5 separate regions of the Homo sapiens genome follow, and regions 1, 2, 3 and 4 are each linked to region 5. The links come from fine-mapping of genetic effects on gene expression. A gene starts in region 5. Each other region holds a variant in brackets. All regions are shown on one strand. Distances are from middle to middle.

Region 1 (5,130 bases), 120 kb before region 5:
CACTGCTGGAGTGGCTGTGAATAATGAATGCCTCTTTCCTTTCAGATCACTTTCAGGAAAGATCACCTTGAGGCCTGCCTCCTTTCCCTGGGTTGTGATGTGATGGCAAGAGAATGCAGCAACTTTGAGACCTACTCCATGTGCTATGAGCATGTGTTGCATCATGCTAGGCAGAGGCTCAGCCAGAAAGAGCAAGTAGGTTCCCAGAGAGAGAAGAACTGCAGTGGGGAATGGGCATGGGCAGGGAGGCTCAGGAGGCACTCAGAAGAGAAAAGTAAAACTGAGGGGGTTGGGATACATACAGTGGTTCTTATGCCAGAACTGAGGGTGAATGGTACCCTCAAATCTCTCTACTCATTGGCTCAATCATTCTCCTGGGCTCTGGTATTCTCAGTTGCACACTAGGTTATGTGCTTGGGAAGTGTCCAGTGGAGAATACGAAAGGTGAGCAACAAAGGGGCTGGCCCTGCAGGGGAAGGTACATAGCTGTCCTTTCCACCCTCAGCAAACACAAGGCACCGTGCGCTGTTCCTGGTCTGGGAAAGAAGCCAGGATCCTTGAGTAAACTCTCTCTTCAGGATGCATGTCATGGGTCAGTCTCACTGGGAGACTTCCTTAAAATATGAGCCTGCTGGTGGGATGGAAGAGTCAGTCCTCCTGCCCTGGGCTGCCCACTATTGTGAAGGTAGATTGCATCAGAGATTTAGTGTGATTTTAGTTTATACCTTAGAAAAGTTCAAAAGTCTAAACCACTAGCCAAAACACCAAATGAAGCATTGAAATGATGAACAACGAGCCTTGGAGCCACCCCTATTTTGGGCTATCCCCATTACTCAGTTCTTGGCATCAGTGTGGGTACCTGGAAGTCAATGTTGTCTTTTGAGGCTGTGTTAGGCATCCTGAAGTCCAGTGGGGCAACTCACACAGTCTCAGCTCCAGGCACAGCCTAAGGTTCTCAAAATGGGGCTCCATTAACACAAATAGGAGGTGTTTGGAATGTGTTGTACTGACCTGAGCCATGGTTGGAAGACTAAATGTTAGAGTTTGGTTGTGTACTGCTTTCTCCTGCCCAGGAATTAGATGCTACACAAAGAGGCCAGGGTCCACCTGAAGACAGTGCTGGCCAGGTAGGTCATTTCCTATTAAAAGGTTCTCTTCTCCATTTCTCACATCCACACTCTCAGGGCTAGCCAGCTATGGGATGCCTTAGAGTCATTTGCTTGTGTCACCTGTAGAAGTCCCGTCAGTGAAGGTCCACTGCAGGAACACCAAGGAGTGTGCTTTCACTTTTGGTGAGCAACCCTCCTTAGGGTGCATTTTTTTTTCTTGAGTTTTTTGGTCGCTTTTGTTATTTTGTACTGGTTTTGTTTTGTTCTGTTTTTGTTGTTACTTTGGGGAGTTTTGTTGTTGTTTCTTGTTTTCTTTTGATGCCAGTTAAGGTGCATTCCAGGCCAGACGCGGTGGCTCACGCCTGTAATCCCAGCACTTTGGGAGGCTGAGGTGGGTGGATCACCTGAGGTCGGAAGTTCCAGACCAACCTGACCAACATGGAGAAACCCCGTCTCTACTAAAAATACAAAATTAGCCAAGTGTGGTGGAGCATGCCTGTAATCCCAGGTACTCGGGAGGCTGAGGCAGGAGCATTGCCTGAACCCGGGAGGTGGAGGTTGCGGTGAGCCAAGATCGCTCCAGCCTGGGCAACAAGGGCAAAACTCTGTCTCAGACTAAATAAATAAATAAAATAAAATGCATTCCAAAAAAGAAAAGGGATGTTTGGGCTGAGGTGTCAAGGGGAGGCCAGTTTGGAAATGGAGGCCAAGACAGTTGAAGTATTTTTCTCTAACTGAAAAGGGCCTATGTAGTGGCTTTTCTGGGGTCACTTATTCACCAGTCAGTGTCTGGCACTGTTCTGGGACCTTTGAATTGTCCTTAAATTCTTCTGCCCACATTTATTTAGCAGAATGTTCACTCTCTTCATTAGGTTTAAAATAGAAGTGAAATTCAATACTGATCTATAAGAAACTATTTTGTAGTAGCAGTTTGAAACTCCTAAATTGTTTTTCTCACACACACACACACACACACACACACACACACACACACACACATTTTCTCATGCTTCTAGATTGCAGAGCTCAGTCATGATATGATCATGGAAATCACCACTCTGAGAGCCCAACTCACAGACTTGGAAGAAGTGAATCTGAATCTCAAGAAGCAGATTAGAAAAGAAGTCCAAGAAGAATATGAAGCATTAGTCCGAGCTTTGTTTGAGACCTGTTTACACATAAAAGTAAGTGTCCCGTGTTGAACATCTGGGCCACCCATTGGGTAGCCGAGTGTAACGGATTCCCATGGTGGCTGCACACCCAGGGATCGATGACAGAATAATGGGCTTTGTAGTAACAAGAGATTGTTAGGCCCAAGAATTTTCTAGCTCTAAGCTTTCACTGCAGAAAGAGAGTCAGCAATGGGTTGTCATTAACCACGATAGACACTGAATTTGGGGATAATATAGAAGTCTATCTTTTACCCTCTATTGACAGTTGCTATTGTCACTGTCTGATTGCTGTTGGGAGGACAGAGTGTTCTGCTCCCCACAGTCCCTCACCTCCCCAGTTTCTATCACCATTTTATCTGTTAGTGTGACTTTCCAGACTACAGTGCCTGGGCCAGGCCGGACCTTACGTAGGTAGCAGCAGGTGCCTCTGGAGAACTCCCTGGACACATTCAGAATTTGAATCAGCTTCCACATTTTTTTCCAACCCTCAAAATGCCTGCCAGCCTCACTCTCACATTCAATGTCAGCAAACTGCTGACCTGTCAGCAAAGACCCATTGCAGAAGTGATGGGGTACGCATGCACCCGCAGCACTGTGGAAGCCAATCGCTTTCATGTGATGTTTGCACAGCCATAAGATAGATGCCCCAAGCCTAAAATGGGCCATCAGGGAGACTGGTCCAGCTGACTCACCAGTGTGAATTTCAGTGCAACCTACCACCTGCAAGTCCACAGCTTCCCCCAACCCTGTCCCCTTCCCTGCTATTGGATACACCCCAAAGCCAG[C/A]CCCGTTTGGGTCCTTGAGTCTCTCCCCAGGGATTGCAGAATGGCCCTGAGGGTTGTTAGGTTAACAGGAGCTTCCACCAGTACTCACCTTGGCCTGGTCATTCCAGCGAGAATTTCCTCTTACTTGCAGTGTAAATGCTTACACATATTAAGGGATCGAACCCAAAATGTATTAGGTCTGGTGCTGCAGGAGAAGGATGGGCAGACAGTGACAGCTGGAATTTGCTAAGCCATCTTTCAGGTGTGAGATTGTTGAGAAATGTCTTAAGTTCCTTTTAGCTTCTGCCAGATTCCCAGTTAAAAAGTAGATTCTCTCTGTTTCCCAGGCTGAAGTAGTTCCACCAAGCCTCCTACAGTAGGGAATCCCTGTTATATTCCAGGGTCCCACGAAGTTGCTAAAGCTTGTGTTGTGTGGCCAGAGCCAGGCTTCCCTCCGTGGCTCCCAGCTGGGCACCCTCCTCCTGCCTTCCTCTCCAGGGAAGTGGTTTAGAAGTGAGAGGACACCCCTACCCTACCTCTCACCCCAGAGACACTGGGTGTCTTAGTCTGCTCAGGCTGCCATAACAAAATATGATAGGCTGCACAGCTTAAACAACAGAAAGTATATTTCTCACAGTTCTGGAAGCCAGAAGTCTGAGATCAGGGTGCCAGTGTGGTCTGCTTCTGGCTGAGGGCATGCTTCCTGGCTTGCAGGTGGCTGCCTTCTCACTGTCCTCACATGGGAGAGAGGGAGAAAAAGAAAGGTCTCTCTCTCTCCCTCTTCCTATAAGGCCACAGTCTATTGCAATAGAGCCTCACCCTTATATCCTCATTTTAATCTTAATTACCTCCTAAAGATCCTATCTCTAGATACTGTCACATTGCTGGTTAGGGTTTCAACATATGAATCTGAGGAAGACACAATTCAGTCCATAGCACTGGGTCTTCAGTCGTACTTACCATTGATCAGGCTGTTTCCTCACAAGCCATTTAGCCAGAAGCCATTCAGAACGGAATATTTCCTAATGGGGTTTCTGCTAGATCCTAAATAGGAAGGCAGCCAGCCTGACTCCCTCCTCCACTTTATCTATATTTAACAGAGCTCCTCAGGAGTGGCTCATCTACAGTGTCTTGTCTGCTCACATTCTACTGTGAGTCAACATAGCAGCAAAAATCTTTGGTTCAGCTTCCCAAGTAACTCTTACCAGGGGCAGTTTGGTCAGCAGGTTTTCTACCTGTGTGACCTTCCACTATCCTCCTGGCTCAGCTTGCCTTGGTGTTGACAAGGAAGGCACAATCTAAGATGTGCTGGTGTCCAGAAGATGAAGCCCTGTGAATAAAAGACAGCACTCAGGGGGCTGCTAAGTGTGACTTCCTTATAGTACATGTCAGAATAATTGTCTGAGGAGGTGATATCTTAATGTGAAATTACTTACAAAAGTTAAGTTGTAGAAGGCAAAATGGCTTTTCTTCAACTACCCTTCACACTACCCAAATCCATTTTACTTCCTTGACTTGATTCTGCAATTTGCAGGAGAAGCTGGATGATAATCAGCTTAATTTGATCCAGAAAGTGTGTGAGCTCATCGGTGAAGTGAGAACAGAAGGGATTGACAATATGAAGGACCTAAAGAAAAAATGGTGCTCTGCCAGCCCCGATGAAGGAATGAAAGAAAACCCAGCCAAAGTATGTGATTTCATTTAGCAATGGGATATCAGCGTTTCATCCTAGCATCTGACTCTACCATTCACCCTGTTAGCATTCCAGCCTGATTTCCCTGAGAAAGCATTGCATCAGGCATTTTAAAGGGGGCACAGGGACGCACTGCACAATTGTGTCATCTTCTGGAAGGCATGTTTCTGATGTTAGGGTTTGTGCCCTTCCTATGAAAATGTTGGGGGCAGCCTTTCCTGAAAATGAGCCTTCTTAGCAGGAACAGCTGTGGGCCTTGGAGCAGGACAACTGCAGCCTGGCCAACCTGGTGTGCAAAGTGAGGAGCCTGGGCCGCTGGAGGCTGGCTGTGCAGCAGGCGTGCTTCCAGGCCCAGCTGAGCAGGACAGAGAAGGTGAGCTCTGGTGGGGGAG
Region 2 (5,130 bases), 24 kb after region 5:
CCCACTTCAGCCTCCTGAGTAGCTGGGATCACAGGCATGTGCCACCACTACACCCAGCTAATTTTTTAATTGTAATTTTAATTTTTTTTAGAGATGGGATCTCACTATGTTGCCCAGGCAGGTCTCCAACTCCTGGGCTCAAGCAATCTTCCTGCCTCGGCCTCCCAAATTGCTGGGAGTACAGGCATGAGCCACCACACCCAGCCCAATACAACCTAATTTTTAAGACACAATCTCCTAAGGCTCAGGAATTGGTGGCACCTGCTATCTCTGGAAACAGGGGTGAGGGAGGGTAAATGAAAGTCTGTTTCAAAGGTGCTTAGACCCCTGATCAAATCTTCCACTCTACACAGCCAGGAGACTGTCCCTCCCCCAAAAGAGAATGGAGAGTGTTCACTGAGGAGGGTTAAGAAAAAGGGGTCTTTGGATTAGGAGTTTCTAGGCACAGTTGAGTTGGGATCACCACAGGGAGAGTAAGTCAACATTTCCATCTGGGATGATGAGACTCCCCCACTCCTTCTTCCCCATCCTGTCCTAGACACAGGCCAGCAGCCAGGCCTAGTGCCTCCAAGTGGGAGAGCAGAAGCGTCTTCCAGTGGAACATGAGAGGTCCAAGGTGAGAGAGCAAAGATGTGGAAGCCAGGCACCAGTAAGGACATGGGGCACAGCCACACCACCTCCAGTGAGGTTATGACAGGCCTCCATACAACTGTTTCAGTACTGACTGAGTGGTTAAGTTAAACATTAAAAGCCAGTGCCCTTAAACAAAGGCTGGAATGTAACAAAAGCCCACCAAGAGTTTCCCCTAGGCTTCTCCTGGGCCTTAAAGCATGACAAAATAACGAAGGAATTCTTAACAGGGCCCACTTAGGATTAAACAAGTTTTACTGGGGATCTGAAGGAACTCCCCAAATCTCCGTGATTTAGCAGAAGATAAGGGTAATCACCCCAGCACCTAGACCCATTTAGATTAAGTAAACTTACTGAGGCTCCAGAAGAAGGTCTTTGGGACGCAGACCTTGGATATAGATTAAAAGAAGTTAATCACCTACGTCTTTAGAGGAATGCACACTTACAGACAGACATACAGCTTAGGCGGTATATAAGCTCTGAAAAATTCTGTAATTTTGAGTTGGTCTGGCGATAATTTCCAGGCCTTCTCCCTATAACTGGTTACAGAAATAAAAACTCTCTTCCTCTCCAATTCATCTGCATCTCATTATTGGGCCACGAGAAATAGCAGCCTGACTCTCAGTGTGATCTGGGAACAAGGTCACAGTTTTACAGACTCTCTCATACAAAAAAAATTAGCCAGGCATGGTGGTGCGTGCCTGTAATCCCAGCTACTTGGGTGGCTGAGGCAGGAGAATCACTTGAATCCAGGAGGCGGAGGTTGTGGTGATCGGAGATCACGCCATTGCACTCCAGCCTGGGCAACAGCCTAAGAAATAAATAAAATACAGGCTCTCTCCACACATGCAGCATTGCCAGTAGCTTTTAGCAACCCACCCTTACATATGATTTAAAAAAAAAACACCAGGCACTCAAGGAGAGCCTTTTGTAATAGTGACAGACAAACAAGCAAGAAGAAAAAAAAAAGCAACTTGCCTCCAGTGAGGAAAATGTTGTTATCATTAACATGCTCATAGAGGTAAGATAATACATTGTGAAATAAAAAGATCATTCAAATTAAAACATTTAGAAAAAAAAGAGCTCCTAAAGGGGGAAAAAAATAAGAGTTGAAACAGAAAACCTCAAAGGGCTGAAAAACAAAGTGGAAATCCCCCAGAGGGTGGGGCCAAAAATGATGGAAAATATAAGAGAAAATAAAGTTAGAGAGAACAGAGAAAACAGAGAGGAGAAATCATCTATGAAATAACTCAAGATTTTCCAGAACTGAAAGACAGTTTCCAAACCTTATGAATCTACCTGTTATCTACCCAGATGGAAGAAAACAGACCCATACTAAAGTGATGGGCTGCAAAATTCAGAATACAGATGCTTCCTGACTTATGATGGGACTACATCTAACAAACCCATCATACTGAAAATATCATAAGGAAAAATGCACTTATACAGAGTACTGTATGAATGCACCAAATGCAGAGTACTGGTCATTTACCCACGTGACTGTGTGGCCCGGCATGGCATGAGAGGATCATACTGAATATTACTAGACCGGGAAAAGATCAAAACTCAGAATTCAAAGTACAGTTTCTGTTGAACATGTACTGCTTTCACAC[T/A]ATTGTAAAGATGAATTGAACCATTGTGAGTCGGGGACTGTCTGTACTGAGGACATAAGGGAAGAACGATCCTACATGCTTTTTCTTAAGTCTTGTATAATGATTTAACTCTAAACTATGCACATAAAATTTTTGATAAAAATAGCCAGCTGGGCGCAGTGGCGCACGCCTGTAATCCCAGCACTTTGGGAGGCTGAGGCAGGCAGATCACGAGGTCAGGAGTTTGAGACCAGCCTGACCAACATGGTGAAACCCCGTCTCTACTAAAAATACAAAAAATTAGCTGGGCGTGGTGGCGTGTGCCTGTAATCCCAGCTACTCAGGAGGCTGAGGCAGGAGAATCACTTGAACTCGGGAGGCGGAGGTTGCGGTGAGCCGAGATCGCGCCACTGCACTCTAGCCTGGGTGACAGAGCGAGAATCCATCTCAAAAAAAAAAAAAAAAAAAAAAAAAAAGCTAAAATATAACCTATTACAGTTCAACAAATATTTCTCAAGTATCCACTTTGTTCGAAGTACCTGAATTCAAGCTCTTCAACCTATCTGTAGCTAAAGTCTTTAGGGAGCTTTTAAAAGCACCAAGGCTCCAGACAACTAAATCAGAAGCTCTGGGGTGGAGGTCTAGGCACTGGTAGTTTTAGAAGCTCCCTAAGTGATTCCAATTTGCAGGCTGAGAACCACAGCACCAGATACTGCTGGATCACAGGAGAAGACTTAAGCCCCAGTCCCTATACTTAAGATTACAATTAAGTTGAGGGATATACAAGTGGTAACAACAATCTGATCCAAAGCAGAGTGGGTTTTAAGCACCTGAAAGGGCTCAAAGGAGGAAGGGATTTCTCACTAGGACTGCAGTGTCCAATACGGTAGCCACTAGCCACATGTGGTTATTCAAATTTAAATGAATTAAAATAAAATTTAAAATTCAGTTTCTCAGTCACGCTAGCCACAGTTCAAGTGCTCAAAAACCACATGTGGTTACTGGCCACCATATTGGACATCAGAGATGTAGGAACATTTCCATCATCACAGAAGGGTCCCATTGGTCAGCGCTGGGCTAGAGGGACCAAAAATGAGAAGGTATTTAAAGCTAGATAGCTGAGTTACAAAGTGATCTACACAGACTTGGGCAAAAGCATGGTTATGGTCAAGATGAAGAATGTTCAAGAATCAGAAAGCAGGGTACATTGGGCTAGATCTTGATAAGTGGACATTAAAGGATTCATTCAACAACTACAAATGAGAGGGGTTCTTGAACCAGGCTACCTGGGTTCAATCCCAGCTCTGTCACTAACGGGTGACTCTGGCAAGTTATTTAAGCTCCCTAGAACTTGGTTGCTTCATCTGTAAACTATGCACTTTAGCAACCCTCTCTTACATATGAGTAAATATGATTTTAATCATACAATGTATAATGAGGATATTACCCACCTTGCAGGATTGTGGAGAAAATTAACTGCAATAACATGTATAAAGGCTTTATTACAATGCCCATCACACAGAAGTTGCACAGTAAATGGAAGCTATTATTATCATCACTACTCCCAATTCTGCAACACACTGCAATCAGCTTTGAAAACATCATTACCTGTGTGGCTCCTCTGGTGGATTGCTAAAAAGTGATTGTACTTAAAGACCTTGCCACAGTCTTTACAGCGGGCCTCAGGGCCTCCAGGGCGCTTTCTCCTTCCACAGATCCTCTTGGCTGAACCATGGTCCTCTTGATCCCCAACAAGTTTGTAATCTTTAAGTTTGACGGATCTCCAAATCCTCCGCTTGCTGTATCGACTCTGGCTTGCCTGGCCATCCTCGGTCTTGGGATCATAGTTCTCATCTTTTTCAACTGGCATTTCCTCCTCTCTACTTGGCTCACAAGTAGGCTCCGATTCTTCCTTTTCTTTTGCTGCAATTTGCTCATTCAGTACACCACTGTCTCCTTTAACCACAAAGTTTTGTCTATTCTGAACTGAATTGTTCACTCTTAACTGTATTTCTTCCTCTGCAGCCAGTTCTGATTTCTCCTCCTGCAATGTATTGACTTTTTTTGGTCTTCCCCGTTTCCGCTTTGGAGGATCGTTTTTCTTATTAGAGATAACAACCACTGGGGCACCAGCAGTGTTCAAAGTTGTTGGCTTTGGGGAGCTATGATTATTTTGGAAGTCTGTGTAAGCCTTTACCAGGTCATAGACTTTTAAGAACTGAGCAGTAGCCAGGATTTGTTCTGTACTTTTCTCACTGGCATGGAGATAACCTGTGTAGATAAATTCCAGCAGGATACCAAAGGTGTCTGCAACCATGCCTTCCAGCATATAAATGGATTGGCCGATTTCCCCCTCTTCTGCAAACATCATTGAGAAGTATTCACTACTGGCAGCAAGTAAGGCTTTGTGGGCCCGGAAATGTACATTCTCCACGATTAAAGTAATGTCACAGAGGAAGCCTTTCTTCCTCTGATCCTCAAAACTGGCCAGCACAGTGTCACTGTGAGCGTCTGAGTGTACAACAAGCTGCCCAGAAGGCTCTGGCGATGTTTCTGCCATTTTCTTCAGAAGCCACTAAGGGTTAAATCTGAAATAAGAAAACAAGGTTTAAAAAGGAGAAAGCACTGTCTAAAAGGTTAATGCCAGCCCACATGAACTTCCTATTCACTTCACATCATTAACTGAATTTTACCATTACCATTTTTGTCTGTCTACAAACTTAGCTCTGGGCCCGGGCGCAGTGGCCTCACGCCTGTAATCCCAGCACTTTGGGAGGCCGAGGCCGACGGATCACTTGAGACCAGCCTGGGCAACATGGAGAGAATTCATCTATACAAAAAATACAAAAATTAGCCTGGCGTGGTGGCGCCCGCCTGTGGTCCCAGCTACTCAGGAGGCTGCGGCAGG
Region 3 (5,130 bases), 100 kb before region 5:
GGGGCCAAGAATAGGTCTCTGCACCACCACCAGCAATCTGATTTTTCTTACCACCATTTCATTGCAGTTGCTCTTGCCAAGATCACCTTCACTTCTGTCTCCAAGTCCAAAGGACACTGAGTTCTCACTGATTTCATGTCTCAGCAGCATTTGAAACAGCTGACCACACCCTTCTCCTAATTATTCTCCTGGCACTGCTCCTTGTGGTTTTCCTCTTCCTCTGGCTGCTTTTTCTATCTCCTCCTTTTCTAGTTCCTCCTACTGTATCCAACCTCTAAACACTGAAGTTGTTCAGGGATCTTTCTGGCCCCTTCTTCTCTCACCTCACATTGTCTCCAAATAATTGCATATTTCCCACAGCTTTAATCATTGTTTGCTAAGTCTACATCTGCAGCTCAAAACTCTCCTCTGAGCTGTAGACCCCTATATCCAGTGACCCATATGTCCAGTGAATAATGTCTACGTTCACGTGTCTCAGGCTCACAAGTTCAACAGGAATGGAACCCGTCTTCCTATCCTTCTCCCTTCCTACTTTTGGGGTGGGGGAGATGCTCTTTCAGCAAATGGTAGTGCCAAATATCCAGTTGCTTAAGCCAGAAATTTGGGAGCTATTCTTTGTCACCCTGCAAATCTGGTTAATTCTCAACTCCTACTAATTTAAGTAGCTCTCAGTCTATCCGCTTCTACCTACCACAGTCCAAGTCTCTTGTCACCTCCTTCACTTTTACTTGGTCATGCGACTATTGGGCAAAAAACTCTCTCCAAGTTTTGACACATTTGCTCAAAATTGATGAAGCTGAAAAATAAGCTGAGTTAGATGCCAATTTTAAGCCCTAAATTTTATGAATTAAATCTAGATACAGGAATTTGAGGTTATAGTGAGCTACGATCGTGCCACTGCACTCCAGCCTGGGCAACAGAGTGAGGCCCCCACTCTCAAAAAAATAAAAAATCAAAATAATCTAGGTTTATCCATTGCAACCAGAGATATAATTTAACATTTTTAACTTTATAGACCTTATATCCCAGGCTCAATACTCCCCAACTTCTGCTTCCACATCATCCAGATACTCCCAGCAACGCTTTTTAAAGACTAATCTCAAAGGCAGTAAAATAACAAGATGGATTCAAAGGCCACAGACTGTAAGTAATAATAAGATTGATTACATGCATTAAACAATAAAGCCTTACAATTTGATTTCATGGTTTTTGGGTCACTTCAGACTTACATTAGAAAAATTATATATCAGGAGCTTATGTAGATGCCTTGAATCTGGATAAGAAAATTCTGATGTTGAAATAATCCTATAACAGCACCTTCTAAATTACAAGTCAATAAATGGGTGTGGAATCAGTACCAACACCTTGCTGTGTTCCATCTCTGAATTTCTTTTTTCCCCCAATCATCTTCAACAATTAACTAGCAGCATCAGACTCCTTATCTGAGTTCCCCAACAGAGCAGAAATAAGTTTCGGAAGTCATTTTAAAACACGTGAGAAATCTACCCTCCAAGAAAATTCCTGGGATGCAGATTAGCATGTATTTGAAGAACTCGTAAAATGTTTCAGTTTTTAGTTTATGTAAAACAACATATACTTCCTCTTCCACTGCCTCCTCTCTACTGCTTTAATAAGTATTTTACTCTTTGCTGCATTTTCTTTCAGAATCCCTTCTAGAGATTCACATATCTAATCAACACATTTAGGAATTCCTGGCTGGGCACGGTGGCTCACACCTGTAATCCCAGCACTTTGGGAGGCCGAGGCAGGCAGATCACCTGAGGCCAGAAGTTTGAGACCAGCCTGGCCAACATGGTGAAACACTGTCTCTATGAAAAATACAAAAATTAGCTGGGCATAGTGGCGGGCGCCTGTAATCCCAGCTACTCGGGAGGCTGAGGAAGGAGAATCGCTTGAACCTGGGAGGCAGAGGTTGCAGTGAGCTGAGATTGCGCCATTGCACTCCAGCCTGGGCAACAAGAGTGAGACTTCATCTCAAAAAAAAAAAAAAAAATTATTTCCCATTACCTGATGAAAAATTAAGAGGAAAATATTTAATCATTCCTTCAGAGAAAAGTATGCCATTCCAAGTCATTCGATGGTGTAATTCCGCAGCTGATGGTCTAGTTATAAGGATCAAAAGTTTCAAGATTTCTAAACATGCAGTTAAGAAGGGGGAAAGACAGGTTGGGAAGATACCCAAACACCATCTTGACCAAGTGAGGGCCACATTACTAATGTCCACCATTTGC[T/C]TGACTCACCAATCTCTGTGCAGTCATCTTTCTTGAAAATGTGAAATTGTATTATATGTCTATGTTTCCGCAAAAGCCCTTTTCAAAAAGAAGCAAAGTTCACTTTGTATGTGTGGGATCACAAGGGCTTTCAAGAATCACTTCATCTCCATTTCACCCTGAAAGCTGCAATACCATGGGGGTGTTGGTGATCGTGACTTGTTGAAAAGGCTGCTAAGCAGATAAGTGCATTAGTGAAGATTTATTATATTTGAGAGATTCAAAAGGGTGATAGGCTAAAGCTAATTGATGAACATTGCCCTACCAAATAAATAAACCCTACAGTGAAGTGTCTTGTGGGCCCATTGGCCCAGTGGCTATGTACAATACGGGAACCCCAAGCAAAAAACCTCAAGGCCAGGGAAGGTACACAGTTAGCTGGAACTTCAGATCTCAGGTCTGACTTCTTAAGCAAGGCCTATGAGACAAGTCAGATAAATACTCATTGAAGAGGAATTTATACATGGCTGAAATGTAAGAACACAGTTAATTTTCTAAAAATTAGCCCTGCACTAACACAAATGATAAAAAATTAAGGAATTTTTAGATTACTTGAAGTATGAGCTGTGTTTTCTTCCTTAACTGGAAATGGCTTTCCACTGATGGATTCATTCTTGACCAATTCCCTTTAGGACAATGGCAAAATACAGACAAGAAGGCATACTATATGGCCTAACCCAGACTGAATCAATGATCTTGGTCTCATTAATAACAGTGACTTTTTATGATGCTATAACAAGAATTATTCACCATGTTCTTAACACCAATATCTACTTATATTACAGGTACCTATTAAACACAAAAAAAGAACTGACGATGTTTTCCTACCCAATATGGCAGAAAATGTTCAACTGACAGCTTTTCAGGTTCAAACAGCTCCATCCAGATTCCCATTTAGAGCTGACTGGTGATGATATCTTCTTTTTCCAACCTTTATTTCTATGAGTATTTGAATGAATAAAAATGACTCCAAATGCCATTAAATCTCTTACTTAATTTTATGTATGAAATTCTCTTATCTGTACTTGGAAGACAGGGTTGAAGGACTAAGATGATTACATCTTGAACCAACCCCAGGTGAAGTAGGGGTTGGTCCCAGACTTTAAAACCTAAGCATTGATTTGCATTTCTACAAGCTAGCCTTTGCCTCTGGTCAGCCAGCAGCCTCTGAATACGAATTCTAGAGTTAGTGGGTAAGCAGGAAAGCTAAGATGGAGGCCCTTGCTTCTAAGCAGTGTTTACTAACAAGTGAAAAACCAAAGTATGTTAATAGAGATTAACACAAATGAACGTTAAAGCATTTGTTTCACTTCTTAGAAAACAAATTTGCCATCCTCTATTAACAATCTTTTCATTCTTCCTACAAATGCCAAATACTTCCTCAGACTTTAGTATAAAGTCCTAATCCAAGTCCTTTGTTCAGACAAGAAAATCTGTCTTGTGTAAAGCAATTAATAAACAGATGAATGGAACAGACAAACATATTTACATGCATAAATTTAAATACGATGTATGTGGCTTTTCAAACTAAAGAGAACATGGAGGCTATTTGGAATAAATTAAATCATCACCTTACCCCATACACTATAAATCCCAAATGGATTAAAGATCTAAATGCACATACGTACACATGCATACAGACACACATGCCACACATGCACAAACTGATTTTTTAAACAGAATATAAAAGCCAATAGGAAAATTGGTAACTTTGGTATCAGAACTAAAACTTCAGTATGATAAAATACTGTATCAGTTATCAACTTATATCTCAGCTCCAAATTCATTCTTTATTGTCTGTTCTGCAATAACAAATATGGACCCTATAAATATTTCCTCTTTGCCAACTGGCAAGAAGTTAAGCTCTCAGTAGAGGGTGCTGGAGGGACCCTGTAGGAGGTGGCAGGGTTTTTTTCCAGGTTACCTTGTGCTCCTCTAGGCAGGCTCTTGCAGTGTGCATGGCTTCTGCAGCACCAGGTTCTTGTAGTATATACAGTTTCTGTGGTGCCTGGCTCCAGTGATGCATGTAGCTCCATGGTAGAGTGCCACTTGCATGGCACCTCCTGTGACGGGTCCCCTCCAGCACCCCTTTGAATAGCTTTGCAGTCTCTGTGAATTTCTCAGCCATCCAATAAGCTTTGGCCAGATCCTCTCCAATGAGGTCTGGATCTCAGCCCTGAAGGGTAGTGGCTGGTCCCTACATCCGCTATCCTTGTATTCTTTAGAGTTCTCTTTATTGCTTACAAGCAGTATGCCAATCTTTTGTTATAGTTAATAATTCTTTATATCAAACTTTCCCTGTTTGAATTACTGTGTGCTTTCTGTCTCCTGAATGGCCCATGACTGATATAGAACTGGTACCAGGAGCAGGGTGTTCCCAGAGGATAGACCTGCTATGGTTTGAATGTCTGTCCTCTCCAAAACTCATGTTAAAATTTAATCCCCAATGTGGCAGTACTGAAAGGTGAGACCTTTAAGAGGTGATTGGGTCATGAGGACTCTGCCCTTATGAATGGATCGATCCATTCATGGATTAATGGATCGATCCATTCATGGATTAATGGATTTGTGGGTTGTTAAATTAATGGACTATCATGGGAGTGGGACTGGTGGCTTTATAAGAAAGGAAGACTTGGGTAGCATGCTCAGCTCCCTCACCATGTGATACCCTGTGCTGCCTCAGGTCTCTATGGAGGGTCCCCACCAGCAAGAAGGCTCTTACCAGATGTGCCTCCTCAACCTTAGACTTCCCAGCCTCCATAACTTTAAGAAATAAATTCCTTTTCTTCCCAAATTTCCCCATTTCAGGTATTATGTTATAAACAACAGAAAATGTACT
Region 4 (5,130 bases), 86 kb before region 5:
TATGAAATGAAACAAAGCAGTTTGTCATTTCTTACTATAAAATATTGAAAATCAAGTGCGAAACTCAGCCACTATTGGCTAAAGAAACTAAATAAAAAACGTTAATGACCTAGAAAAGCAAAAGCCCATTTTAAACTACTTAAAGCCTCTGCACTAGTCCAATGAGTCAAAGGCAAGGGAGAAGTAAACCTCTAAAACTGAAGACGACCCTCTAAAGGAGAAAACTATAGAAGTTAAAGTATGCATGCTTATTATACTATGGGAAACCAAGAAGGAAGGGAGAGAAAAAGAAAAAGCACAGTCTATTCATCCAGGACAATCAGTAAAAATCTACAGTAACCTGATCAACCAAAAAATCCTTAGGTGTTGTGAAATTACATTGGTCACTTCTGTTATCTTAAAACTTAAAATGATTGTCTCATTTAAAATAAATGATTCTAAAATAATATGATTGTCTCATTTAAATAGTAAATGATTCTAAAATAATGTATATCCTTCTTGCCTCACCAAAGAAGTCACTACTCAAGACAGTCTGGTGGAAATCCTTTCAAGGTACAATAGTGCTAGCATACTTTTTTTTAAAGTACAAAGGAAAGTGTAATTAAATCAATTTAGCTCTATACTTTTCAACAGCCATAAGAAAAATGTTGGGAGGTTCAAGATACGAAGGCTTTCAATTCTGTATAACAGACTTTAGCTTAAGTTTCTCCGCTCTGAAATAAATTTTCAATAAAATATTAACAGTATGATATCTAAAACAGGTTTACTACTGCTCACATCAAGTTACATCCTCTGACCAATCCTTACCTTCCTTAATGTCAAAGAACAAATCATAGACATTAAGCTAGAGCTTACCTTTCACTGTCTTCTAAGGCACTGTTCTTTATATTCTCAATGACATAAGATGCTTTACAAGTATGAACAATAATCTGTTATACACACTAATGGTATCCTTTCATTTCTTTAAATCTGGAATGTAGTTCCTTGTGTGGCATCTTATTTCTAATGTAGAAAAAACAGCTGTTATCAAGCACAAAATTTTAATCTAAGGATACCATTTAGTACTACTAAATTAATAAATTTATTCCACTTTTGAAATGACAGCCAAAAATCCACCTAATTGATTCTCATTTGGCACGTTCTTCTCAATTCTGTTCACTAAATTAAAATTACTAAATTTAAACTGCCAAGAGCCATGATGTTGTCTGCACAAGACAACATTTTCCATCACTTTCAGAAAGTTATATTTGGCATGTTAAGGAAAAAAAATATAATCCCACAGCAGCAGCTATTTAAAATAAGACAGCCACAGGATTCATGCAGAATATTTTAAATATTCCTGTTGAACACAATGATTTAATTGATTTTTTCTTCACGGATGATGCTCCCAAACATCCTATATGCATCCATGGAAATTTAAAGATCCTGGAATAGCGTCTTCCATGTGGGACATCTTAAAAGATAGTATTTTGGCTTCAGTGAGTTACACAAATGAATCACCAGTCCTTATTAATTCAATGGGTCTGTTTACAGAGTGTGGTAATTTCGTTCTTTAGATTTGCAGAATTTATAAAGAAAGAAAATTACAGCCTGCACACCCAAGACCAGGACAATTCCTCCAATGAAACTGGCTGCATCAAAGGTAGACTTTCGCACAGGTTGTGAGGTTGGAGTCACAGTGTTATTTGTTGTACCTGTTAGATAAGACAAAAGAAACAACAATCCTAAGTTTCATGGTCCTCTATTGTAATTTAAAGATGCACCTGAGCCTCTATTTTGCCATGTGTTAAATTCTATAAAGTATTTCCTCAAGTCTTTACAGCTAGAATTTATCCCTAATTGAGGAAGACAACCATATCCCATTTTTCATTCCACCCAAGGATACAAAGTGGTCAATGCTACTGTACTAGTACAAATATAAAAACAATGGGAAAAATTCTCCTAGTACATAAATTGTGCCCTGGGAATGTATCAAACACTTCTAAAATATGCAACAATTTCTTCAGACTATGTACTTTTAGTTAATTGTGAGTGTAAACGTCAATAGTGCTGAGAATTCACATGACTTTTGAATTTACTAGTATAAGGTAAAATATTTGGTTGCAATTTTTCATGTTACAAAAATAATCTTAATAATATGCAATTTATAATTTCAACAAGTAAAATAACTGTTTTTAAAGGCATATCCTGCCAACAAATTTCACATGAGAAAGTATTATCAAGTAATAAGGAAAAAACAAATATCTGAATTCTTTTCAGGCAGTAAAATGTTTCAAGAGGAAACAGAAAAAGCGATTTCCATTTAAAATAATCTAAGAAAAAAGTAACAGTTATCAAAGAACACTGGTTCTGGTGGCTGTACAAGTTGGTAACTTTAATGACAACTGTTTTGTATTCCTTCTCGTGAAGACAGAATGGCTTCACTGAAACTGAGAAAAAGGTGGCATAAGCATGAAGAAAAAGAAATCACAAAAAGCAGGTAGAAGATTCATTAGCATCAGTTTTTTAAAAATATGGAGGGAGGAAAGGATTCCTAACCTGTGTACCTACAGTATCCTGTGGCGTAACCTAACT[A/G]TGAATTAAATTAGATTATGTCAAATCATCATTTAATAACAAGCTAATTTTCACATTACTGAGCAATGTTAAGAAATGGTTAAGAAAGTGAGGTGCACATCTGGTAGTGATTCTGGCTTTTTAGACCTTTCTCAGTGAAAAGGACGGATATATTATCTTCCCTCAAATCGCCATGCTCTCTCATACAGCACACAACCAATCCCTAACGGTAATCAGAAGTTACAAATTAGATTTTACATACAAGTTGTACTGAAATGTTTGGAAAAACATTATTACTTAATTCTAAAGTGTCACGTCAAATGTGATTACACATTTAAAAATGAGAAGAGGAATCTCAGCAAAGCTATCATTATTGTGTTAACAAAGCACTACCTTGATCCCCCCTAAGAGTAAGAGAAGAATTTCAGTTCCATAACCATTAACGAAGAAAGCTGGAAAATGATGGCAGAAATTGTAAAGGGCAACATCGTGCACACATCCTGCATCATTGCTAATCTAAAAAGCCTCAATTACCTGATGTAGTAACTGTCTTGGAAGTTGTAGAAGGGGAGGGCTGAACTGTGGGTTTAGCTGGAATGAAAACAAAATGTCTTTTTAAAAAACCTTAAATTTCTAGCTTCCCAGTTATCTAACAGCTTTAAAAAATAATCCTGCCAACTTCAACATGCTTTCAATTTTTTAGAGACCAAAAGCCAAATTTCAGTTAATGGTTCACTAACATAGCTATGCACCCAAGAATACTAGGATTTAAGTGTATTTTAAAACAATAAGCAATCATAAAATTGTTAATATCTATGTATCTATCTTGTATAAAATCTATGTATACATCTGGATAAAATTTGCGAAAACTCTTATCTTGCTCACTGCCAAGGGCAAGAACATTTAGGTGAGGAAACTATAGGTTCTTCATAATCTTTCTCCTAAGACAAAAACTATTAAAGTCGTAAGTTCTCTCTTACAAGGGTATTGAGATTTGCCTATCTTCTTCACTTCAGGAGTTGGCAAACTTTTCTTAAATGGGTTGAAAGCAAATATTTTACTCTTTGGGCACTGTGTGATGCAAAAGCAGCCAAAGTCAACATGCAGACGAATGGGCATGGTATGTTCCAATAAAGCTTTATAAGAACAGGGGCCCTGGGCCCACAGTTCCCCAACGTAAGATTCTAAGAGCCCAAGGTTAAGTAAGCTCTAGTCCACCACACTGCATGAGGCCAAAATACTATTTGAGTTGCCATTACTAAAGGCAAGAACTGCAATTACTTTTGCACCAACCTAATAGCTGATGATACTGCTAAAGAAATGTACACTCTGAGAAGGATTAGTTTGAATGTAAAATCATTTTAGGGACTAAAGCACTCTTTTTTTTTTTTTGAGATGGAGTCTCGCTCTGTCACCCAGACTGGAGTGCAATGGTGCATTCTCAGCTCACTGCAACCTCCGCCTCCCAGGTTCAAACGATTCTCCTCCCTCAGCCTCCTGTGTAGCTGGGATTACAGGCATGTGCCACCACACCCAGCTAATTTTTTATTTTTAGGAGAGACAGGGTTTCACCATGTTGACCAGGCTCATCTTGAACTCCTGACCTCAAGTGATCTGCCGCCTTGGCCTCCCAAAGTGCTGGGATTATAAGCATGACTCACCTCGTCCAGCCAGTATATCACCTATTAAGTTTCTATTGGTAGTATGAATACTAATAGAAGTCTGACCAAGGCTTTCAGAAAGGAAGGATGTGAATATAGTTTCTACAAATTAACATTTTTTCTAACATCCAAATGGCTACCAAATAAATTCAAAGTTTGCTGGAGCATTTGAGAAAGGTTTCATTAAGAGGTTGTCCTAAGGGTAGGGTTCAAATTTTTGGAAAGTGCACTATAGGAGTCACTAGCTAAGAGAGCTTATTTTGTCTCAGGAAATCATTAGGTAAGTCAGGCTTCAGAGTGCAAGGGCTTCAATATGAGGATATGCTTATGCTGGTGGGCCGCTAGGGATGATCTGGGGAAAGATGAGGAAGATTAATCATATGAGATTTATATTTTTATAAAAATGTAAGGTGCTATGCAAACATTCATTTTTGTACTATTTCAGAAAAAAGGGTTTGAAGGCTAAAGAGAATTTGGAAAACAAATGTTACTTCTGTTTAAAGTACATAACTGAACAGACTTCAAAGTGATATGCTTAACCCACGAAAGACAGGGAAAGGGTGCCAAATAACTGTTGATGAAGCACAGAAATGAGTAATCTTTTCACTGCATTAGACTTTCAAACAATCGAACAAAAACCTCAATAGGAATCAGCATCCTCCCAAATTCTACTAATATAAAAGAGGAAGTTCTGTGCTTTAACAGTAAATATACACTAAAAGAGCAGGGCTTGACAGTTTTCAGATATTGCTAAATACCTGAATTGTTGCTAAAAGTAGATCTTTAAAGACCAGGACTCTCGTAACAGGCTGACTACCCATAATCCCAAGGTTGACTGAATCCTAGGAAACTAAGGTATTCTAATTTTCACATGACCATGAGTCACAGAGAGCTTAAGACTTCTTTTATTAATATT
Region 5 (5,000 bases):
CAAAAATTAGCTGGGCATGGTGGCACATGCCTGTAATCCCAGCTCCTCAGGAGGCTGAGGCAGGAGAATCACTTGAAACTGGGTGGCAGAGGTTGCAGTGAGCCGAGATCATGCCACTGCACTCCAGCCTGGGTGACAGAACGAGACTCTGTCTCAAAACAAAAACAGAAAAGGACACTCCTGGCCCATCCTTTTTCAGACACTGGCCAAGTTCTTGATGGGGGAGGGGGAGATTCCAGGGAGCATAGAAATACTTACCCTTCCTAGGAGGGGGCTGGAGGCCAGTGAAAGTGACACCCCAGTGAATTTCCACCCCCAGCAGCAATGCTACCTTCAGCAGAAGCAGCTGGAGCTGCCTGATGCCTGGAAGGGAGAGGACATTAGGAACAGGGACCCTAGGGCAGCACAAGCTCCCCATGTACCAGTGTGTGCCTGGTCAGGGTCAGACTGGAAAAGGCCTTAGCAATCACTCAGCCCAAAAGCCCACTTATAGATGGGGGACCTGAATCTTCAAGGTCACCTGGCTGATACGGATCTTGTCCACTTCGACATTTGGCTGTCCCAGCATTTCCCCACTGGCCTGCCTCTAGGCCCAAGCTCACCCGCCCCTCCAGGCCACCACGTGGTGCTCACTGATGTGGTCCAGGGTGCCGGTGCAGAAGCGCCCGTAGAACTTCTTAGCACCGAGTGCCCGCAGGTCGTGGATGGTGAAGGGCCAGAGGTGGAGCACGTTGTGGCGAGAGAACTTGGTGCGCTTTTCCACCAGCACCACTCGGGCCCCCAGCAGCGCCAGCTCCACAGCGACCCGCAGCCCGCAAGGTCCAGCACCCACCACCAGGCACTGTGAACACACAGGGCAGTGAGGGCATGGCATCCTGTCCGTCCTCTGACTCCCCGCATGCTCCACACCCCATCCCAGGCACCGTGTATCCACCTTGGTGCTGGTGCAGGCCCGGCCCTGCTGGTAGACAGGCTGGCCTGCTCGCTTGTCCAGCTTGGTCCACAGTGACTTGGCGCTCCAGTAGTTGAGCTGGTCCTTGATCTTGTGGTACTGGGGCAGCCCCCCACCGGGTTCCAGCCCCAGGGCCCCACACAGCTCCTGGAAGCTGCTCAGCACGTCCTGGCACAGCTGGGCCTGCAGGAAGCTCTCAAAGTGGGCATGCGCTGGGTTGGTGGAGGTAGGTGAAGCCATGGAGGCCTCCTGGGGAGGGCAGCAGCTGGGCAGAGATGAGTGGCTGGAGAGGTGGAAAAAGAAGGGGAAGAGGCTGGAGAACAGAAGAAATAAAAAGGAAGGGGAGGCGAAGAGAGCAGGCTGGTGTCCCCAGGGAGCTCGGGATTCACCAGTGATTGGCTCTGCTCCTCCCAGCCCATTCCCCTGCCAGCATCTGCTCCAGAGACAGCTGCTATCCAGTCCACTCCAAGTGAAATTTGCCAAATTTGGAAGTGAAAAACATTAGTCTTGGGCACAGAGGGCACATGGGACACCAGGGGAGCCTCCAGTTCAGCCTCCCTGTCCAGGGATCTCCAAGCCCTGGGGTAGGAATTCTTAGCCTGCCTTCCTTAGGCCTTGGAATCAGGGTGTGCGGGGATTTCTTAGATGTGGAGAGGACAGAGCTGCCTTTGCATGCAACACAGGGACAGATCTGATACCCACAACCCCAGCTGCTGAGCATACATCCTGCCCCATCTCCCTCCAAGCGTCCCTGTGCCGGCGCCCCTTGATGGCCTCAGTGCCACGCTGTGTCTGAGAAGTGTCTCATGGCAAGGGCAAAGTTTTCCTCAGCACTCGTGCTTGCCTCCTGACAGAGAAACAGCCTCTGTCCGCGTAGGTTCCACTTCCCTCCACCAAACTGCCTCAACAAACGGCGGGAGGATGTTGCGACTGACTGGGGAACGGAGGCCTGGGTCTATTTCTGACGCACTGTGGTCAAAACACTTCCTCTGTGAATGTGCCCTACTCCAGGGGGCCGTGGGTAGGGCTGGGGGTCGACCGCAGCCGGGTGCGCCCCTCCCAGGTTCCCCCCTCCCTGATCGACCCCTACCCCGCCCCGCCCCCTGTGCGCCCGGGCGCGCTCTCCCAGGAATCTCCGGAGACAAAGCCTCGCTTTGTCGCCCCCTCCCACGCCACCTGAAGGGTGCCCGAGGGGGTTTCTCACGCGGGGCCCAGAAGGTATCAGAGGGTATGGAGGAGGCGGGTGTCCACGGCAGCGTTAGGGAGGGTGAATGGCAGCAGTGGGGGCAGGTCCCTGAGGCTCAGGCCCCTCCACCATCCAGCTGCCCCTCCGTTCCCAGCCCGCCGCGCCGAGACAGGAGATGAAAGCCTCCCGCTGCGGGTGGCCCGGACGAGGGCAGACGGAATCTCATGACGGAAGGGCAAAGATCTTTCTTGGGGGTGGAGGGTGGAAGGAGGAAGACCTCGGCGAAAGGGGAGAAAGGAGCGACCCAGCCTGGAAACGCCAGGACAAAGGCTGTGAGAGGGGTGGAGCGGTCTGAAAGGATGGAGAGGGAGCTGGACCGCGGGCGGCAGCGGTGGGGGTCCCCGACACTGGACGGCAAAGTCCGGACGCGGCGTGAGCAGGGCTGGGCTGAGGGAAGACCTGCCTGACCTGCCAGGCGTGGTTCCCGAGCGACCGCAGCTGCGTTTCCCCGGAAGCGCACCCCACCTCACCCCACCCGGCCGCGGGGCTCGCAGCCGGCTCCGCTGGACGACTTACCGGCGGCTCCGAAGCCGGGAGGGGCCGCTTCCTGTTGGGCTGGCAACCAGGTCTGAGCGGGTGGGAGGGCGGGGGCGGGGGCGGGGGCGGAAACGCCGAGATCGGGCGGGGATGCTGGGATGCGGGGCGGCCCGGGGCGTGCGCCTGGAGTCGCGCGGAGTGTGGGCTTCCGCGAGGGGCGCGGGGCGCCGCCCGGGCTTTATTCGCGACTCATTAGCATCTCATTACTTCTGGATCCCTCTACCGCCTCCAGCGGGGACAGTCTTGGGCCCGCCCATGCCTGCAGGGTGGCGCCCGAGGGCGTGGCGCTGCGGACACCCCGTTCCGCTCTGGGGCCTCTGGGTGGGTCTGGCCTGTTGGGGGCTGAGGAGCTCGAGGGTCAGGGCGCCCAGTGCTGGACCGCGCACCCTCGGCCTGGGCTCCTTGCCGGTGCTTGCGCGTGCAAGGCTAGCTCTTTCCCCGCCGCAAGGCGAGGACCACCCGCCCCCGCCGCGGTCCCAGGTCCGCTGGCAGCCTCCCAGCGCCGGGCCGAGAGGGCGCTCAGGCTCCTCAAGAGGTTTGGAAAAGCCGGCGGGTCCGAGGGTGGCGCCGGAACGTCTGCGCTCTCCTCCGGTCTCCCACCTGGAGATCCACGGCCCGGGCGCCCCAGGATGGATCCAAGCGCAGAGTGCGCCTCCTGTGACAGAGGTCGACCCCTAAGCCCGGGCCGAGGGCAAAGGGCGCGGATTAAAGTCCTGGAAACTCAGCAATCTGCAGCTTCCAAATGGATATGAGAAGTGAGAGGGAAGGGGATGGCGGGGCGGGTTAGACCACCACTAAGAGATGGGGAATGGGAGGGGTGTGTGGAAGAGAGACCAAGTCTTCAAAGAATGCCTTAGAGTGAGGACCCACGGGACTGTCTGCTGAAAAGGGCTGGAGAGGCCTTTGGGATCAGCTTCGTCGTATTCCCGATAAGGAACAGCGCCTAAAGTGAAGGGACGCGTCCAGTCTTTTAGCTAGTTAATATTAAAAAACATCGTCTCATTTATTGACCGTCATCCTATGAGTATTACCTCAACATCAGTGCTTGCAACAGTCCCATTTTACCAAAAAGGAAACTGAGTCACAGATGTTCTGTGATCTGCACACAGCAAGTGGCAGAGCTGTTTGGGGGCCCAGGTCTGTCGGCTCCACCACCCCAGGGTTGACCCAAAATGACGCATGAAAGGCTGGCATTATAAGATGCTGTTTCTTGTTTAGACGAAGTGATACTGTTACACTGGAAGCACTAATAAAACCCAGGTATAAATAAGAGGGTTGCTGTCCTTGAGATCCAGAGACCATAAAGAGCTGGGAGGGAATAGGGCCTCTCCCTTTATTCTCATTTTGCATTTCATCTGGAAAATATCTGAGACCCAGTAAGACCTGAACACTCACTGTTCCCAGCTCGAGCTGAGAAGCAGGCAGTGGGACGAAAGCAAGGGGAAATGCCTGTTCTCTGCCAGGAGAGGCGAGGGAATTCAGCCAGGTCACGCTCAGAAAACTAGGGCAGCCTCTCAGTTGGGCCCATCCTAGCTTTTGAGTGTGACACGTCATTTGGCTTGAAATGAATTTGCCGAATATCAGACACACCCATATTTAAATACATGGTGTAAAAACGTTCTAAAGTCCACTACAGCTGGGTTACCCTGGGCTCCACCACCCCAGGGTTGATTCAAAATGATGCGTGAAAGGCTGGCATTATACGAAGCTATGTCTTGTTTAGAGGAAGTGAACTGTCACGCTGGAAACACTAATAAAACCGAGGAATAAAGAGGAGGGTTGCTGTCCTTGAGATCCAGAGACCATAAGAGATCCAGAGACCATAAGAGATCCCGAGACAGTCCCTGGCTTCTAGAATAATCTCATTTCCCTTTCACTAGCAGATGGTACACAACTAGCCGCTCCACTTACTACAACTACAGCGGCTACAACTAGCCGCTCCACTTTGCAAAGGCTTAGTGGGGTCTGGCTTGACTCAATGCCTTTTGCCAAGCAGGGTCATGTGGCTCTATGAATGACACATCATAAAATTTGTCTTTAAAGAAGATCAGAGAACAATAATGAGTTCATCAGTGCTAAAAACTGCTGACTTGAAGTTTCAACTTATGCTAATTAAATACTTAACATGGGGGCATAAAGCAGCAGGGAATACATTGTTCTGGAATCCAGAAGGTCTGGTTGGATTCCAGCTTTGCTTCACGCTAGCCTAGTGTGACCTTGGATGTCACCAACCACACTTCGTCTGCCCATCTCTAAATGGAGGCA

Alleles and levels. Alleles are on the strand shown, and positions count from the first base shown. SD is a standard deviation of normalised expression in the study named. Not every link is listed here.
For the expression in monocytes of the gene that starts at base 2,768 in region 5, C is the low allele of the variant in region 1 and A is the other (small effect, 0.38 SD a copy in CEDAR).
In carriers of allele A in region 4, the expression in memory regulatory T cells of the gene that starts at base 2,768 in region 5 tends to be higher than with G alone (large effect, 1.2 SD a copy in Schmiedel 2018).

What was found. PIP is the estimated chance that this variant, and not a neighbour inherited with it, causes the effect. A credible set is the group of variants that fine-mapping cannot tell apart.
Region 1: its variant is the best candidate, but not a certain one, in a credible set for the expression of MICAL1 in monocytes (CEDAR, PIP 0.57).
Region 2: its variant is the best candidate, but not a certain one, in a credible set for the expression of MICAL1 in whole blood (INTERVAL, PIP 0.74).
Region 3: its variant is the best candidate, but not a certain one, in a credible set for the expression of MICAL1 in whole blood (INTERVAL, PIP 0.59).
Region 4: its variant is the best candidate, but not a certain one, in a credible set for the expression of MICAL1 in memory regulatory T cells (Schmiedel 2018, PIP 0.64).

Annotation. Positions count from the first base shown.
Region 1 is chr6:109,336,323-109,341,452 of GRCh38, forward strand. It overlaps the pseudogene CCDC162P. Among named protein-coding and RNA genes, the nearest start is that of CD164, 44 kb to the right of the region's middle. The variant C/A (reference allele first, on the strand shown) is at 3,067.
Region 2 is chr6:109,477,245-109,482,374 of GRCh38, forward strand. It overlaps ZBTB24 (zinc finger and BTB domain containing 24), which reads right to left. Exons shown (of 7, transcript NM_014797.3): 2 at 3,831-4,810. The coding sequence starts at 4,782. Among named protein-coding and RNA genes, the nearest start is that of ZBTB24, 3.4 kb to the right of the region's middle. RefSeq lists an enhancer at 3,466-3,967. The variant T/A (reference allele first, on the strand shown) is at 2,244.
Region 3 is chr6:109,351,772-109,356,901 of GRCh38, forward strand. It overlaps the pseudogene CCDC162P. Among named protein-coding and RNA genes, the nearest start is that of CD164, 28 kb to the right of the region's middle. The variant T/C (reference allele first, on the strand shown) is at 2,253.
Region 4 is chr6:109,367,324-109,372,453 of GRCh38, forward strand. CD164 (CD164 molecule) reads right to left here. Exons shown (of 6, transcript NM_006016.6): 5 at 3,088-3,144; 6 at 1-1,694. The coding sequence ends at 1,528. Among named protein-coding and RNA genes, the nearest start is that of CD164, 13 kb to the right of the region's middle. The variant A/G (reference allele first, on the strand shown) is at 2,575.
Region 5 is chr6:109,453,005-109,458,004 of GRCh38, forward strand. It overlaps MICAL1 (microtubule associated monooxygenase, calponin and LIM domain containing 1), which reads right to left and starts at 2,768. Exons shown (of 25, transcript NM_022765.4): 1 at 2,715-2,768; 2 at 935-1,235; 3 at 634-841; 4 at 259-363. The coding sequence starts at 1,192. RefSeq lists enhancers at 1,360-1,409, 1,640-1,689, 1,772-2,280 and silencers at 1,840-2,179, 2,540-3,389.